Homo sapiens: one gene and its partner. The protein of the gene in region 1 binds, or shares a complex with, the protein of each later gene. Each region holds a gene or a part of one and is shown on either strand. Other genes may lie near its edges. The genes, in order: MYO5B and RAB11A.

Evidence for each region.
Region 2: the proteins of MYO5B (region 1) and RAB11A are in contact, whole or in part, in a crystal structure (PDB 4LX0), measured with the Homo sapiens proteins. Residues at the interface, in NP_001073936.1 of Homo sapiens: Ile1627, Gln1628, Gly1629, Leu1630, Trp1706, Met1710, Arg1713, Tyr1714, Ser1717, Gln1718, Glu1721, Arg1724, Gln1745, Leu1747, Gln1748, Leu1749, Lys1750, Lys1751, Glu1755, Ala1759, Leu1763, Tyr1779, Glu1786; in NP_004654.1 of Homo sapiens: Leu11, Lys13, Arg33, Glu35, Ile44, Gly45, Val46, Glu47, Phe48, Ala49, Thr50, Gln63, Trp65, Glu71, Arg72, Tyr73, Arg74, Ala75, Ile76, Thr77, Ala79, Tyr80, Arg82, Gly83.

Annotation. Positions count from the first base shown.
Region 1 is NC_000018.10:50,182,198-50,193,277, forward strand, and holds part of MYO5B (unconventional myosin-Vb), read right to left. Parts: intron 1-11,080. UniProt on the Homo sapiens protein: May be involved in vesicular trafficking via its association with the CART complex. The CART complex is necessary for efficient transferrin receptor recycling but not for EGFR degradation.
Region 2 is NC_000015.10:65,886,491-65,892,489, forward strand, and holds the end of RAB11A (ras-related protein Rab-11A), read left to right. Parts: intron 1-1,210; coding exon 1,211-1,350; 3' UTR 1,351-5,499; downstream 5,500-5,999. UniProt on the Homo sapiens protein: The small GTPases Rab are key regulators of intracellular membrane trafficking, from the formation of transport vesicles to their fusion with membranes.

The DNA of each region.
Region 1 (11,080 bases):
TTCTAGGTGAGAGAAGAAAACAACTCGATCTAGTTTTTCTTCCTGGATTCACTGTTTTCTGTTCTGAAAGCCACTGGCTTTGCTACATCTAACAGGACAGGTGGATATCCATACATGCCCCCACCTCATCATGCAAATACCCATGGGTCTTCATAAGACTGGTTTTGGGGGTGTTTGTTTTCTTCCTTTGGCCAGCTTGGTGGAGAAAGATTGTTAATAAAACCTTTTGAGTTAATTGGGGGAAAAATAGGAGACTGTGCTCTTAACAAATGATAACCTTGAGAAGGTAAGGGCAAAAATATGTGCCCAAAATAACGTGTAAAATTAGGATATTCAAACACAAGGCAGTTAAATTAACTCTCACATCCATGAATGTTACTTTGCTGATATTCTACATTCACACCTTGTGCTAAGCCTTTGAGCACTGTCATAAAAAAGAAAAACATTTAATTATCTCCTGACAGGGGCTCCACATTCCATAGACTTTGGCAAGTGCCAGAGGAAACAGATGGGCTTTCTACTGGTTATGCCAAGCCAAAAGCCTTTCCAAAATCACAGAAGGTAATGTTACAGTCAAGGAAGGTGGCTCCTTGGTGAGGAGAGGACTTTCCTCAAAGAGCCATGCCTAGAACCAGGCTGTGGGGGGTTGGGGGGTTGTAGGTAAACTTTAAACCAATTCAATGATATTTGTTGAGTTCCTACAGCATGCAAAACCCCACCCTGGGAACTGTGAGGGATGTGAGGCTAAGATTCTACCTACAACTTCAATGACAGCAATTTTGCAAATATACACACTCAACCACCAATTGCGTACCCAAAACAAAGAGTAATGAAACAGTGAATCTAAAAACTACCTATGACCTCAAAGCTTTTGATTTGGCATTGCATCTTTTAATTTGGCATTATAACTCATCCTATTTTCAGCAGAACCACCTTTTTTGGATAATTGATGATGCACGGTAATAAAATGAATACCTGTGAACTCACTACCCAAATTAGACTGTTAATAGTACAGTTTCCCATGCTGCTCCCCTGCCACTCCCACCTCCCAGTAATTATTCTAGACTGTTTTCTTTTCCTTCATTCCCTGGTGTTTCCTCAATTTTATCATATATATATATATATATATATATATATATATCTCCTTCAATACTATTCATTTTGTTTCAGAAATTCTAAGAATGGTATTATTCTGTATGTATTCCTCTCTAAAGCACATTAAATGATGATACCTAAGCTGGGCCTTTGACTAAACAAGAAGATGAGGAAAGGCTTCCAGGAGTCTCAGGTCATGGCCCAGAAAGAAAGCAAAATGCCTATTAAAGTGTCAAGCATGGTAGGAAGGAGGCAGCTTTTCACTGGAGGATGTTAAGTGAGAGATGGAGCCAGGAAAAGTGGACCAAGGCCCTGAGAATGAAAGGATGGTTAGTTTTAGATCAGAAATACCCAATTTTAAGCTCCTTGAATTTCAGGTATGCTGTGGTTTAGATATGAATCATTTGTCCTCAAAGCTCATGTTGAAATTTGATCCCCAATGTGGCGGGGGTGGGAGGCGGGGCCTAGTGGGATGTGTTTGGGTTATAGGGGCGGATCCCTCATGAATGGTATGGTGCTGTTCTCATGGTAGTGAGTTCTCACTATAGTGAGACTGGATTCGTTCTCCTGGGAATGGATTCATTCCCACGACAGTGAGTTGTTATGACAGGATGTCCCTCAGATTTTGTCTTTTTGCACATGTCTGCTTCTGCTTTGACATTCTCCACCATGTTATGACATCAGGACAGCCTTGCCAGAAGCCAGGGCAATGCCCTTGAACTTCCCAGCCTACAGAACTGTGAGCTAAATAAACCTTTTTAAAATAAATTACCTAGTCTCGGGTATTCTGTTGCAGCAACACAAAATGGACTAAGACAGTGTACTTTGTTACACTTTGCCTTTTTGAAGATGTGGATCTCGTTTGGGACTACATGGCCTAAGGAAAACCAAAAGCAGGGGTTCTGCCTACATTTGGGACAGAATTTTAAGAAGCACCAGGATGCACGTGGGGCTGGGTGTGGTAGTGGTGGCAGTGGCAAAAGAACACAAGCAGGATCAGACCACCTGCCGTTCTTTCTGCACATGGACTCGATCCTTCTCTGATCTTGGTGGGTTTTCTGTTGCTGGGGCAGGGAGAGTTGCAGGGCAGTGCTAGGCAGAAAGGACCCTCTATATTAGGGCCCCTTATATCCAAATGATGTTCTGACTCACCATAAATGGGACAGATAACCTCATGGAAGGCAGTAGAACACAGTGGTCAGAAGCTGGGCCCTGAAGCCAGGCAGCTTTGGGAAAGTCACATAAGCCTGTGTTATTGTTAAATGAGCTAACATGTAGTGCTGAGAAGTGATTTGGCACAAAAGCACTCCATAACCAGTAGTTGTCCAACTAGAGGGTTCAAAATACATAAGCTCAGAACAAATGAAGGGGAAAATACATGCCAAGGTGCTTTATTCTTTAAATGTATATATTGTATCCTGAATATTCTGGTTTCCATGTTTTCCTATCTCAAAATATAGAGTGGACTGGGTGCTGTGACTCATGCCTATAATCCCAGCACTTTGGGAGGCTGAGGTGGGAGGATCACTTGAGGCCAGGAGTTCAAGACCAGCATGAGCAACATGGTGAGACCCTATCTCTACACACACACACACACACACAGAAAAAAATATATATATATATATTATTTTTAAGTTAGCTGGGCATGGTGTCGCATGCCTGTTCCCAGCTACTTGGGAGGCTGAGGTGGGAGGATTGCTTGAGCCTAGGAGATTGAGGCTGTAGTGAGCCATGATTGCACCACCACACACACTCCAGCCTGGGTGACAGAATGAGACCCTGTCTCAAAAAAATAAAAAATATAGAGTAGTCATTTAAATGAGCAAAAACAGTTATAAATAATGCCAGTTAATACAAACAAGAAATATAAGGAAAACAACACATTGTTCCCAGTGATCAATAATGTAGAGCCTACCAAGCATGTGAACAGAGGCTCAACCCTCCAATGAAAGTCAACTTTAAAACATGTGTAAAACATTTAGTATGAATAAGAATTTAAAAAAAAAAAAAGAGAGAGAGAGAGAAAGAACAATGACCCGAACTTAGAGTGGCGAAGAAACAGACTGGTTCTCTTGTGGTGGCTATTGGCCATATCAATGAAGACTATAAATGTGCATGCCAGCAATTCCAGCTTTAGGAATTTATTCTGAGAAAATAAATGAGGTTACAAGAACAATCTTTCACAGTATCAAAAGATTAACAATTTATTAGTATGTTCAAAAAAGCTAGAAGATAGGATCTTGAATGTTTCTAATGCAAAGAAATGATAAATGTTTGAGGTGGTGGATAACCTAATTGCCCGATTTAATCATTATACATTGTATACGTGTATTAAAAAAATCACTTGAACCCCATAAATTTGTGCAATTATTACTGTCAACAAAAAACAAAAGGAAAATAATTGGAACCAACCTAAATGCTCATCAGCATGGGAATGGTTAAACACATTACAGTATATGGCATCAGATCTTGGCAATTTAAAAAATGTATATTTTTAAGAAAAAATTACAGTACATCCATATGCTGCCTTGTGCAGCCATTAAAAATGGCAAAATTGCCTTTGTAGGCTACAGGAAAAGATAGCCATAGATTAAGATTTAGAGTAATAGACATGGCATGATCCCATTTGTTTTGAGTACATATTGTGCATAAGTCTAAAGCAGCACTGCCCAAGAGAAACAGAATGCAAACTACAACTGTGAGCCACCTGTGGTACTTTAAATTTTCTAATAACCACATTTAAAAGGTGAATTGAACAGAATATTTTAGCCAATATATAAATAACAATCACTTCAACACATAACCAATATAAGAAGTATGAAGGATATTTCGCATACATTTTTCTAAGTCTTGGAAACCCAGTGTGTACAGTACTGCACGCTTCCAGCTCATCCCAAGCTGGGCCAGCCTCATCGCAAGTGCTCAGCAGCCACATGCAGTTACCCTGTTGGACAACGGAGGTCCAGAGAACATGCCTAAGTGGTCAAGAGCAGCTGTTTCTGGGAATGAGACTACAGAGCTTTTGTCTTTCCTGCATTGTATGGATTGTTTCAATAATCATTTGTATTCACAGAGGGAAAACAGAAGCATTGTGAAAAATGCTTTTTAATTTTCCTTTAAAGCTATAATAAGAGACCAGAAAGCACAGGTTAAACTTAAAACTTCTTTCAGACTGCTCTTGCTCCTTCCCCAGGGGTGGTGGGGAGTACCATATCTTGTCTACCGCTCTCATAGTTCATGTTTGTAGCAATCCTACTTCCTCTTTCACCAAGTCTCCTTGTGATCAAGACCCCTTCAGGACAGCAGGGAAGGGTTAGGGGAAAAAACATGCTAGCCACATAATGCTGACTGCCACCCAGCATGGTGACTGGAGGGAGAAGCAAACTAATGAACAGTTGCCAACACTATGTTAGACAAGCACTTCACATGGATTAGGATTATAAGCCTCCAGTAACCTTCCCATGGTGCAGGTACCACCCCAATTCTTCAGATAAAGAAATCAAGGCTTAGAAAGTATCTGTTCCAATGTGTCGGAGCTGAGAGCGCCACAATATCCAGGGTGTCCACCTCAAGATCATAGTCACAAAGGCCTTGGAAATGCCCATACCAAGCTCCTGATCTTACCCTTATTAACACCATGCTATCAGACAACTGCATTTCTTCATTAAAGAAAAGCAAATCCCAGGCATCATTTGCAAGAACCCCAGATCCTGACATTTCTCCTCTAAGCTCTTTCGTAAATCTCCAAATGTAAATAAATGCTTTCACTTAGACAAACCATTTTCATCCCAAACCCAACATGTCAAAAATCAAGAATTATCCCTGCTCCAACCTGACTTCTGTCCACACTCAAGGTGGATATTTCAAGTTCATAGTTGACTCTTCTACTTCCCTTGCCCTTAATAAAACATTTATTGAGTTCTAGTCTCTGTAATTTCTACATAACTACAAAAAGTAGTAATGAGTACACCTAGCAACCAGATCTTCATTTCTAAATTCCATTCTTCAATAAAAGGAAACTGACAGGCATCAGCTTAACCAAGGGATCAAAGTGATCCGTCAGTAACAGGACACATTGATATCACTGTCTCCTGAGGTGATGCAGTGAGAAAGGCACAGCATTTATGATGTGTTCTTGCCCAAAAGTCACAACCTCCATGTAAGCATAAGACAGTCTGACAAACCCAAAATCATTCTACAAAATTATTGAGAAATGCTTTTTTTGGGGGGGTGGGCGGTGGGCAGACAGGGTCTCACTCTGTCACCCAGCCTGGAGTGCAGTGGCACAATCACAGCTCACTGCTACCTCAACTCCCAGGCTCAAGCAATCCTCCCACCTCGGCCTCCAGAGTAGCTAGGACCACAGGTGCATGCCATCACACCCAGCTAATTTTTTCTATTTTTTGTAGAGATGAGGTCTCGCTATGTTGTCCAGGCTAGTCTCGAACTCCTGGGTTTAAGGGATCCTCCCATCTTGGCCTCCCAAAGTGCTAGGATTACAGGTGTGAGTGACTGTGCCTGGCTTGACCAATGTTCTTCAAGTGTCAAGGTCATGAAAGACAAAAAACTGAGCAACTGTCACTAGAGGGGGGCAGGGAGCTACAACCCTAAAGGCAATGTGGAACCCTAAACAGGATCCTGGCCCAGAAAAAGAACATTAGTGAAAAAGGTGGTAAAATTCCGGTGAGCTTTATAGACCAGTTAGTAGTATTACAGAAATGTTAACCTCCTGGTTTCAATAATTGCACTATGGTTATATGACATGTTAACACTGGAGCAATCTGGAAAAATATAGAAACTGCACTATTTTTGCAATGTTTCTGTAAGTGTATATTTCAAAATAGTTAAAAATAGTGCTATAATTATCCCCATATACATCTAGCTCATACCTGTCCCTATGCTTAAACTCACTCTCCCCTGTCTCCTCCTGAGAGAACATCCTTCTTTACAGCCTCCTCATGCATTTCAAATCCTATTCATTCTTTAGGCCCCAGTCATGTCCCACTACACCTTAAAGGAAGCCTTTCCCGCAATACTGTAGCCCACCAGACCAACACTTCTACAAAATGCCTGTAACTTGTAGAGGAGTATGTGCACTCCTCTAATGACACACAGATAATCCTGTATTGTTAGTGTACTTTGTGTATTTAGCTTTTATCACCAAACACACTGAAGGCTCCTAAAAACATCTGGTATGGCCTCTGTTCTCCAGAATCTCAGCCTACTTAGATAAAGCATCACATAAAAACTATCAACAAGGCTGAGGTGGGTAGATCATGAGGTCAAGAGATTGAGACCATCCTGGCCAACATGGTAAAACCCCGTCTCTACTAAAAATACAAAAAGTAGCCGGGAGTGGTGGCACACACCTGTAGTCCCAGATACTCAGGAGGCTGAGGCCGCAGAATCACTCGAACCCAGGAGGCAGAGGTTGCAGTGAGCTGAGATCGTTCCACTGCACTCTAGACTGGTGACACAGTGAGACTCTGTCATAAAAAAAAAAAAAAAAAAAAAAAAAAAAAAAACACACACACCTATCAACAAAGGAGGGCAGGGCAAGAGCCTGCTCAATGATTACAGGTTACAGGCCATTGGAATATGCCACATCCACAAGTCACAAGTACAAACTTCAAAATTCTGATGATCGCCAACATGGTGAAGCAGGATCCACTGGGCTTATAGGCCCATCTGAAAACGGGGAGCAGAGGATCAACGGAATTGGAACTAGGGATGAGAGAAGAAAAAAACCACATGCAAGACAGAGAATGAGCCTCAGAAGGAAAGTGACAGCATGACACACAACCTCCATGCTTCTTTTCAGCCTTTCCTGGGACCATAGAGGGGCCAAAGCCCTTGAGATTCTCAACATCCACTAAGCTAAGCCACCATGAGTTATGGTTAACTTGGGCTCCTAGAATCTGATCCTGAGACAAGGATTCCTGCTCAAGAGACTTGTAAGGCAGTGTTTTCCGGAAAAGACTGGTAGGGGAGTAGAGAAGGTGGACAAGAGAGGGAAGGAAGTCAAGCTAACATGTGATACTAAGGAAAGTCCCAAGCATGGTAACTTTAGTTCAACTGTACAAAGAAACTGAAAACAGTATGGGTCATACTTTAGAGCTGTTCCATTCTCAAGGTGACAAGATAGGAAACTAATGTCATTACAGTGCCATTGGTTAAGGACTGTTCCCTTTTGCAGAGTGTCAATTCCCAGGCTCCCTATGCACACAGGCAAAACAGCTTCAGGAGCTTTGACAAAGAGATGGGTGCTGGCTATTGGGAGTGAGCTAACACCAAGGCAGTATGCAGGGAAGGGAGTAAGGGGGAAACAATAGGAGCACTAACAGCATCTGCTGACACTTTTCAAGTCCTCATGTCTTTAACACTGTCACCACTTTTTGGAAAAAAGAACATCACTCAGAGCCACCAGCAAAAGAAGGAATCATCAGCCCCTCCAGCAGGGGTGACTGGGTACAGAGGAAACAGGTGGCTCTTGCTGCCTTCAGACTGACACTTGGGAGAAACTTACATTACCTGAGGTATAGGTAAGGGACTGTTAAAGGACACCTGCCCAAAAGCACAGAAGATCTATTTTTCAAATGATTGGTCCCAAATCGCGCCCTTAGTAAAGGCTCCTGGGTGCAAAGCTGCCATACATATGGTGTGTCTGCCAGTAAAGTAACCTCCCAGCAGCACTCAAAAACCCACTGCTCAGACACTACCTATCAATTAGAAGCCAAGCAGGAAAAAAGGTTATTTGAAGGCACTGGTTTCAAGGCACCAGTTTCAATTTGATGATTTCTCATTCACTCTGCTGGCTAGAATCAAAGTAGCATATTGAAAATCCAGGTATTTGAAATAGCAGTATTTAAATTTTTTGTTCCAAGTAACTCTTCTATAGATAAGAGTTGTATTATTCAGCCTGAGAAGGAGAGGTTACATTTTATGCTTTAAAATCAGACTACTATCTGCAATCATCATGATGAAATGGTATTCACCATGCTTGCACATGTGTGGGCTTCTTTCTGGATCTATGCAAAGCAAAGCCCACATTGTCTTTTCCAATGGGTTGGAAGCCAAGCACTCACACTGACCACATGCATGCCACTGTGACAACAGAGACCATCATCAGCTCCACCTTTGGAGCTGATGTGAGAGTGAATGAGACTGACTCACTTTGACATCACCCTGAAAGTGTCTGGCACTGACTGGTGCTCTTTCTCCATCCAGAAAAACCTCACTACAAAGAAAACAATTTCTCAAAGGTGAGGTGTTGGGTCTTCTGAGAACAGGAGTGTCTCTGTTCAAAGAGAAGTGCCCTTTGGCCCCCGACCTACCAAAAAAAAATCACATAACATATAAACTGCCACTTGAAGGGAACAGATCAAGAAGAGCAAGAACACATTTAATTGGATGGAGGGAAAAAGAAACTATTTTCTTAGATAACTAGAAATACACTAATTTCTTACTGAACAGTATTTAATACAAGCTAATATATATTTAAATGTTTCATATTCCAATAATAACATCTTCTAACTATCACAAAAGCAACAGGTATAATCAAAGGGCTTTAAATTTTCCATTCCCAAAAATGTATAAATGCTGTTAGCATAATGGGTAATTATTTCCATCATACATAATACATTGATGTGTGTGTCTGGCTCCAGTGTTCATCACATTAGGAAAGCCCACTAGCAAGTTAAAAATAAAAGGGAACATTGGCTATTTTGATAATACACTAAAATGAATAATCTCTAAGAAACAAAGTGAATCTGAGTAGCAGGCACGACTTCCCTGTGTAACTTATGATTCACATGCATACTGAGAAGCCAGCTTGGCAAGTGGGGAGACCATGGTTAGGCAACTACACAACTGCTTCTCATAGTAAAGCACAAGTGTGTTAATTGCCAGGAAGAATAACAACTGCTCAAAACATAAATCTAGAAGATACTGTCTTGGGTCCCAGAAAATCTCCTTAATTTCATAATCAAGACCCTAAATGATTAAGAACTGGAAACCCATTAACAGAGCAAGGTGCAGCCCAGCAGCCCTTAGGGAAGAACTCTAATATTTGTTTGGGATTAATTATGCCAACCCCTCACACCAATGAAGCTACTTTTTAAGTGTCTTATATCCAAGACCTTTCTCTGGTGACACCAGTTTTGTACATCTCCATAACCTGAGAAAAAGTACACTGAAACCCAAGTTCAGACTCCCACTACTTCATCATTCCTAAGAATTAACATGCAATGTATTCATTTCTAACTAAAAATCAAATTGAGTGTTTTCTCCTACAAGTATTGTCTTTAAAAGCAATCCGATATTAATTCTTGTTCTTCAAAACTAGGGCTCCGAAGATTAAGGGTTTATTCAATTGTCCATTAGCCTCATATGAGCACTATTTCAAGGTCATGGAAAATGCATATCATGGAAAAAAATTCACATGGATTTCAGAGTTTTCTGCACCAAAACAAACCCATAGTTTTATACTTGTTATAACAAGTATGAATGGGATCTAGAACAGGGTCTAGTTTGAGGCACTAAGAAAGTTAAGTCATCAGTTTGAAAAGAAGCCCCTATCAGGGCAACATGAATTCTACTAAAATTGAAGCAAGACCAAACATCAAATTTATGACGAAGTGTGGAGAGAAGAATTGTGAAATCATGACTTTATGAAAAGTTTATGGGGACAATCAGTTTTTAAGTGGATAATTCATTTGAAGAAGGGACGAAGCGATGTCAAAGATGAAGCCTGTACCAGCAGACCATCCACACCCATTTGAGAGAAAAAAAAAAAAAATGTAGCTTGTTTGTGCCCTAATTGAAGAGGGCTGACAATGGTAGAAACAATAGCCAACACCACAGACATCTCAATTGGTTCAGCTTACATGATTCTGACCGAAAACAAAGTTGAGCAAAGTTCGCACTTGATGGATACCAAAACTGCTGCACCCAGATCAACTGCAGACAACAGCAGAGCTTTCGATGGAAATTCTAAACAAGTGAGATCAAGACCCTGAAGCATTTCTTTGAATTGTAACGGGATGAAATGTGGCTCTCCCAGTACAATCCTGAAGACAAAGCCCAATCAAAGCAAAGACTGCCAAGAGGTGGAAGAGGTCCAGTCACAGCAAAGATGGACTGGTTCAGAGCAGAGATCACAGCAACATTTTGGGGGAATGCTCAAGCCATTTTGCTTGTTGTCTTTCTAGAAGGCCAAATGATGAAGACATCTGCTTATTATGAGTGTCTTTAGGAAGCCAAAGCTTTAGCAGAAAAACACCCAGGAAACTTCACCAGAAAGTCCTTTTCTGCCACAACAATGCTCCTTCTCATTCCTCTCAAAGAAGAGCAATTTTGCAAGAGTTTCTGTGGAAAACTATTAGGCGTCCACCTCACAGTCCTGATTTGGCTCCTTCTGACTTTGTGTCCTAATCTTGAACTAAATGACCTGCATCTTTTCCAGTTAATAATGTAAAAGAGACTGCATTGACATGGTTAAATTCCCAGGACCCTCAGTTCTTTAGGGACGAACTAAGTGGCTGGTATAACTTAAAAAAGTGTCTTGAACTTGATGGAAACTGTGTTGAGAAATAAAGTTTATATTTTTAATCTTTTAACTCCATTTTTCCCCCACAAACTTTCCCCCTCATATAATACAGCAATTCAATATTGCCTGACAAAGGACTTTGACACATTGTAGGTATATTCAGTTGAGTCACTCCTTTTACTTAGGAGCACAAGTTGTATCTCCATGCACTTTAATGTAACAAAGCTTCGGCTCTTTGAGCACTCCAGTTCAGATTTTTCCCCTGCCTCACTGGCTTCCAGCCTCCAGTCCCAGCTCCTGAAAACCTAACCGGCTTCAGTGAAAGAACTGAAAGCTGAGCTTTTAGGGATCCTCCCAATACCTCCACAGCTAAGAGGGGTGGGGTGCCGTTCCAGGGCCAGGACTGTCACAGAGTTCACGCCCTGGCTCCCACCTCCT
Region 2 (5,999 bases), on another chromosome or scaffold:
AGGCTAATTGTGTTAATTTGACACATTTTTAGAATTATCTTGCTTTTTGAGAGTAGTGTTTTTGGAGGGACAACTGGGAGAGTAAACAAAAATAAGGTACATTCTCTGTTCTTAAGGACTTTATAATCTAGTCACAGGGAACAACTTTTAGGCAGTGCAGTATAAGACCAAACGTGTTACATACAGATACTTATTGTGGAGGAATTTAGTGACATTCATGCGGTTATTTATTTATCACAACACATGTTATATGTTGCAGTACAGCAGTAAGACAGACACAGTTTTGATCCTTACAGAGTTTAACACTTAGTAAAAGAGGCAGACACTAAATTATTTTTGATAAGTGTCATGAAATAAAAATAGAGTTTACATATAACATCTTAAGTTGCCTATTTTGTATCATTCTTTAATTACAATTTAAGTTTTGTTCAGGAGGTCACTGATAAACACATTATCTTTTTTTCCCTTCCAAGAATCGTTTGGGATTTTAGCATGTTTGTTAAGATGTACTCTGCCGAATGCGTCTGATAGTGCAAATTTATTTATTTTTTGTGTGGTACAATGTCATTGTGTGTAGGCAATTTTTGTTTGTTTGTTTGTTTTTTGGGGTAAAGGTAGACTGAAAATACTCTTATGGTTTACTTTGAATCTAAGTCCATAAACAATGTAATGCTATTGGCTTACCTCTTTTTTTTTTTTTTGAGACCGAGTCTTGCTCTGTTGTCTAGGCTGGAGTGCAGTGGCACGATCTCATCTCACGACAACCTCCGCCTCCCGGGTTCAAGTGATTCTCCTGCCTCAGCCTCCCGAGTAGCTGGGATTACAGGCACCCACCATCATGCTTGGCTAATTTTTGTATTTTTGTAGAGACAGGGTTTCACCATGTTGGTCAGGCTGGTCTTGAACTCCTGACCTCAGGTGATCTGCCTGGCCTGGTTTACCTCTTTAAACAAAGATTTATTTGACTGGTGAACCTTTCCCTCTGACATGGAAAAACCTTTGTTTCTTTTCTTACCCAAAGGGCAATTGTTAAAATAAAGGGTTGAATCTAATCAGTGGCTGTTTGAAAATAAAACTTTAAATTTATGTATTCTCTGTTCAGTTTCCTTAGGGACTTTGATGCAAATATATCTCCTACCTTTATGTATCTTTTATCCTAACTATGATAGGTTTATTCACACTAAGTATTGTGGTTTCTTTTTTCCTTCAGAGATTTACCGCATTGTTTCTCAGAAGCAAATGTCAGACAGACGCGAAAATGACATGTCTCCAAGCAACAATGTGGTTCCTATTCATGTTCCACCAACCACTGAAAACAAGCCAAAGGTGCAGTGCTGTCAGAACATCTAAGGCATTTCTCTTCTCCCCTAGAAGGCTGTGTATAGTCCATTTCCCAGGTCTGAGATTTAAATATATTTGTAATTCTTGTGTCACTTTTGTGTTTTATTACTTCATACTTATGAATTTTTCCATGTCCTAAGTCTTTTGATTTTAGCTTTATAAAATCATCCACTTGTCCCGAATGACTGCAGCTTTTTTTCATGCTATGGCTTCACTAGCCTTAGTTTAATAAACTGAATGTTTGGATTCCTCAGTTATTGTTTACTTTTCATCATGGAAGCCTGTCACTGTATGTAGGACATAATAGAACTTGATCACTTGAAGCTCAGACCTATTGGTCTTGATCAAATCAAACTAAGAAGACCTTAGAAATAAGCTACCATTTTGCCACAGAGCAGCTTATAGGTAATACACTCTTCTCTCAGTGCAGTGTACATTTCCACAAATCTAAGAATTGCCCTATAAACATAGCAGGATTTTGAGAGCTTGAAAATTTTCCATTATTCTGGACATGAATTTCTAAAATGCCTTAATAGGTTTATGTAGTTGAGTAAATTTTGTTTTTTAATTTTTGTAAGCATCAAAGTTGATTAGAGAGGGGGGCACTTTTTCTGGAGAATTCTCTTAGTAAACACAAAAGATTGTTACGGTTTCATTAGTAGTATGGTTGTGGGGCCATAAGTTAAACAGTGCTGCCTGGTAGGCTGGGAACTGAAGAGACTTGTGGTATTCCATCTCGGGTGCCTCTGTTGGCAATGATCAGGCAGCCCAAAAGATTTAAATGATCTATAATAATTTCCAAGCGGTAGATTATGTGGCATTTTATTGCTCAGGCAATAATTGGTTTAATGCTGGTAGTGTCAAATTTTGAAGTGTTAATTTTGTCTTAGAACCTTCCAGTAAGTGAAATACAACCTAGTTTTATCACCATATCCACCAGCAGGCATGGATAATTATTTTAACAATGCTAATATTTGAGTTTTGCAGTATATTATAGAATATAGTCCAGTTAAATCTTTGGTTTCAGTATGTCTGAAGAGTACAGTGAGAGGTTAATTTCTGCTCAAGTGGTACCACTTAAAGGCATGTATTCTTTTAGTATGTAAAATGAAATAGTACCTTGAGTTTAAATAGAATGCATTTAGGCATTGTAGAGATCTGAAATAGTTTTCTTCCACTACATTGTTGAAATCAATGAAGCAATTAGTTTCTCATTCAGAAATGTGCACACTAATATTTAGTTTTGCTTTCTCGTGGATAATATTAAGCACTTACTCTGCAGTTTCCTGGAAGTTGTGTCAACTGCAGTGATACTATTCAGGATGGTGGGAAATCCCCAAAAATATGTATGTGTGGGCTTGCTTAGATTACTATATTTCATAGTTAATCTTTTGTCTCTTGCGGTGCTCATGATGTGTGGGGCACACGGAAGGCATTGCTGTAGTCAGTCATTTTGGTTTTCTTCTATAGCCATTTTATTATTTTAGTGTATTAGTTATGAAGATAATATTATCTATTTGTAAATTGCTACTTTGTATTTTATGCATGCTCTGTAATTTGATTTTTTTTTAGTTATTGATTTGGATTATATTCACATTCTAATAAACAGTTATAGGGGGATTATTTCTTATGCTGTCAGATTACATTTTTCCTTTGAGTGCTTTGGGTGCAGCCGTGGAATCCTGATGTAAAAGCATAGGTTCTTGCATTACTGAGTAAACATTGAATTGGGAGCATCAGTGTGTGAATTCAGCTTTGATTTTAGAACTGCAGTTCAATTATGCTTTCCTTGGAAAAAGTATGTCCAAAAACATTAGGAAAGTAGTGTGTATTTTCATATATAACAGTGTCACCAGACCCAGGAAAAGAAACCATCTCTATTTTATTGAAAGTTGGTGGTAGATTTTTTACAAAGTAAGGAGAAAAGAGAAAAACTAAATAGTGAATTGAAAATGAATAAAGTAAACTTAGAATTTTTACCCAAGTGTAGACTTAAATGTTGCTTTGAGTATGGCTGGATCTTGGGAGAATTCCAGGAAATATTAGGTATTAGAAAATGACTTTGATTGCATTTCAGCAGGTGTCTTTATTCTGAGTAGTATCTTAGGAGACAAACTGTCTCAAGCAAGAAACAATAAATTTTTAAATATTATGACAGTTCAGGGCTTAAGGCAGTTTAGAAGTATTTTGCTACTTGACCTTGATTTTCAGTTATTTTAACTTTGAATTTTTTTTTTTTTTTTTGAGACGGAGTCTTGCTCTGTTGCCCAGGCTGGAGTACAATGGCACCATCTCAGCTCACTGCAAGCTCCACCTCCAGGGTTCATGCCATTCTCCTGCCTCAGCCTCCCGAGTAGCTGGGATTATAGGCGCCAGCCACCACGACTGGCTAATTTTTTGTATTTTTAGTAGAGACGGGGTTTCACCATGTTAGCCAGGGTGGTCTCGATCTCCTGACCTGGTGATACACCCACCTCGGCCTCCCAAAGTGCTGGGATTAAAGGCGTGAGCCACCGTGCCTGGCCTTGAATTTTTTTTTAACCTGTTATATAGTCTCCTGAATAGTTAGCCATGGTGCCTTGATTTAATCTTATGTCATTGTTCTCAAATGCCATGATTTCTCTTTAATAGTAGTTGTCATTATGTAAGGGTAAGTTATTGCCCATTTAATTGTAATTATAAGAAGAGGTGCCAGCTAGTGACCTTACATCAGTGATCTTTTAAGTTCTGAAGGGTTCTGCAGAAAAGTTACACTTCTTGAGTTTGGGTTGCCCATCAGAGCTGGTCACATTTCTTTGATCATTGAAAAAATGAATATCTTAATTTTTGTCTTTGCTGACTGGTATTTATAAAATACAAATGCTTTTAGTGGGTTGAGCTGTTGTGATAATCTCTTCCATCTACCTTAGAGAAGAAGCTGTACTATTTAGACAGTTTTGGCCAACACTAGAAGCAAAAGAATTCAAAGGCTGGGTGGATATTTAAGAACTTATTCTAACCTGTCAGGTTTCAATTTGTGGGGCTTGGTTTAACAGAGGAAAAAAATATAAATTGATTTTCTGATGTCTCACAAATATCACATACCTGGAAAAAAATTAAAACAAAAAATGAATTTTGTAAAAGGTTATGTATGACTTCCATTTGCTCTGTAAAAAAATGAACAAAGATTGTGAAAGGATCCTCTTCCACCACATCATTTAATGGGTTAGCGGAACAGATAGGGAGCTATGACACTAGCACCAAAGAGAGATTTTTCTTCTGGTTGGGTGGTGCTGGTGCCACGCCCCTTTCTGGGATTTGACAAGTCTTTCCCACTCACCTATACAATATGCCAAATCAACTGGAGTTGTCATTCTAATGTTTTAAAGAATGATTGGGTTCCCCCAAACTGTAGGAGGTCGATGGTAACAATAAAGTGATACAAAATGCTTATGTCATTATAATTTATGTAAGGGAGACCATTAGGCTGAGAATCAATATGATTGAGGTTATCTATTCTCCTGAAAAGTGAATTGGAGAATAAAGAAAGAATATTTGAAAGGATGTTGTGTACTAGGCAATATACTAGCATGTATTAGAAAATACGGTAAACTGTGGGTTAGAAGAGTGAAAGTAGCTGGTATGATAGAGCACTGGACTGAGTAACGAAGAGATTCTAGTCATGGCTCTTGTGGTCATTTCATTTTTGAGCCTCACATTCTTCCAATTAATGAGGGTACCAGATTAAATAAACTCTGGGGATTCATCCCAATTCGAACTCTGTAATTCTCTGAATGAACTCTCTCTTCAATTAAAGCCAAATTATTAACATTTTAACTCAAGTTTAAATTTAATAGAGAAGTCAAAATGAGGTATGCACTTTGTGGAATGTTTTTGGTCTTATCACAATAACCTGATTAAAATGGTGCCTTTATTTCCATGTTTACTCCTTTAAATAAGATGAAAGCTTTCAGAACATTTATTTGCAAAATGACTGTCAATATCAACAATATGCATCAAAGTACCATATATGCTAAGGGAGAGGAGCACTTGATGGGCTGCTATGTTAACTGTAAATTGAGAACTGCTTGTTTTATGGCTTTTGCTGTTAAAAAAAAACTGCTGGCTTTTAATATGTACTTTAAAATATACTCATGTCTGGGAGAGAACTTTTAAAAACATTTTGTGTTTAATTTTTAAAAAATTATTTCTTTAATAGGAATCTACAAGAAGGTAGATCAGTCCACAGGCTAGCTATCCAGTAGAACCAGTGATTAAATCCAAGTGTACAGGTTTATGTGTGCATGTACATGATACACATGGTATTTTGGGGTTGTTGATCTAGTGATCTAATTATTAATAGTCAAAACATTATTTAAATTCAATTCTTTGACATTTATTAATTATAGGATAGTTCCTGACACGGGTGTGAGCACAAAATGTTATGTATATTGGCTAACTATGTTACCAGTACCAGTGATGGTAGTGAGAATTAGCAGCCAACAGGATTCCTTTACTATGTTTGAGTCAGTGGAACTTAACCTTGCTCCAAACCACAAAATCTCAGACCTTTTTAACTCTCATCCCAATGAATAATGTACTGTTTTTAGCACCTGTCCCCCTGTTGACAACCTCTAATCTCTCAGCATACCATTTTCTCAGGTATTTCTAGGGAAGTG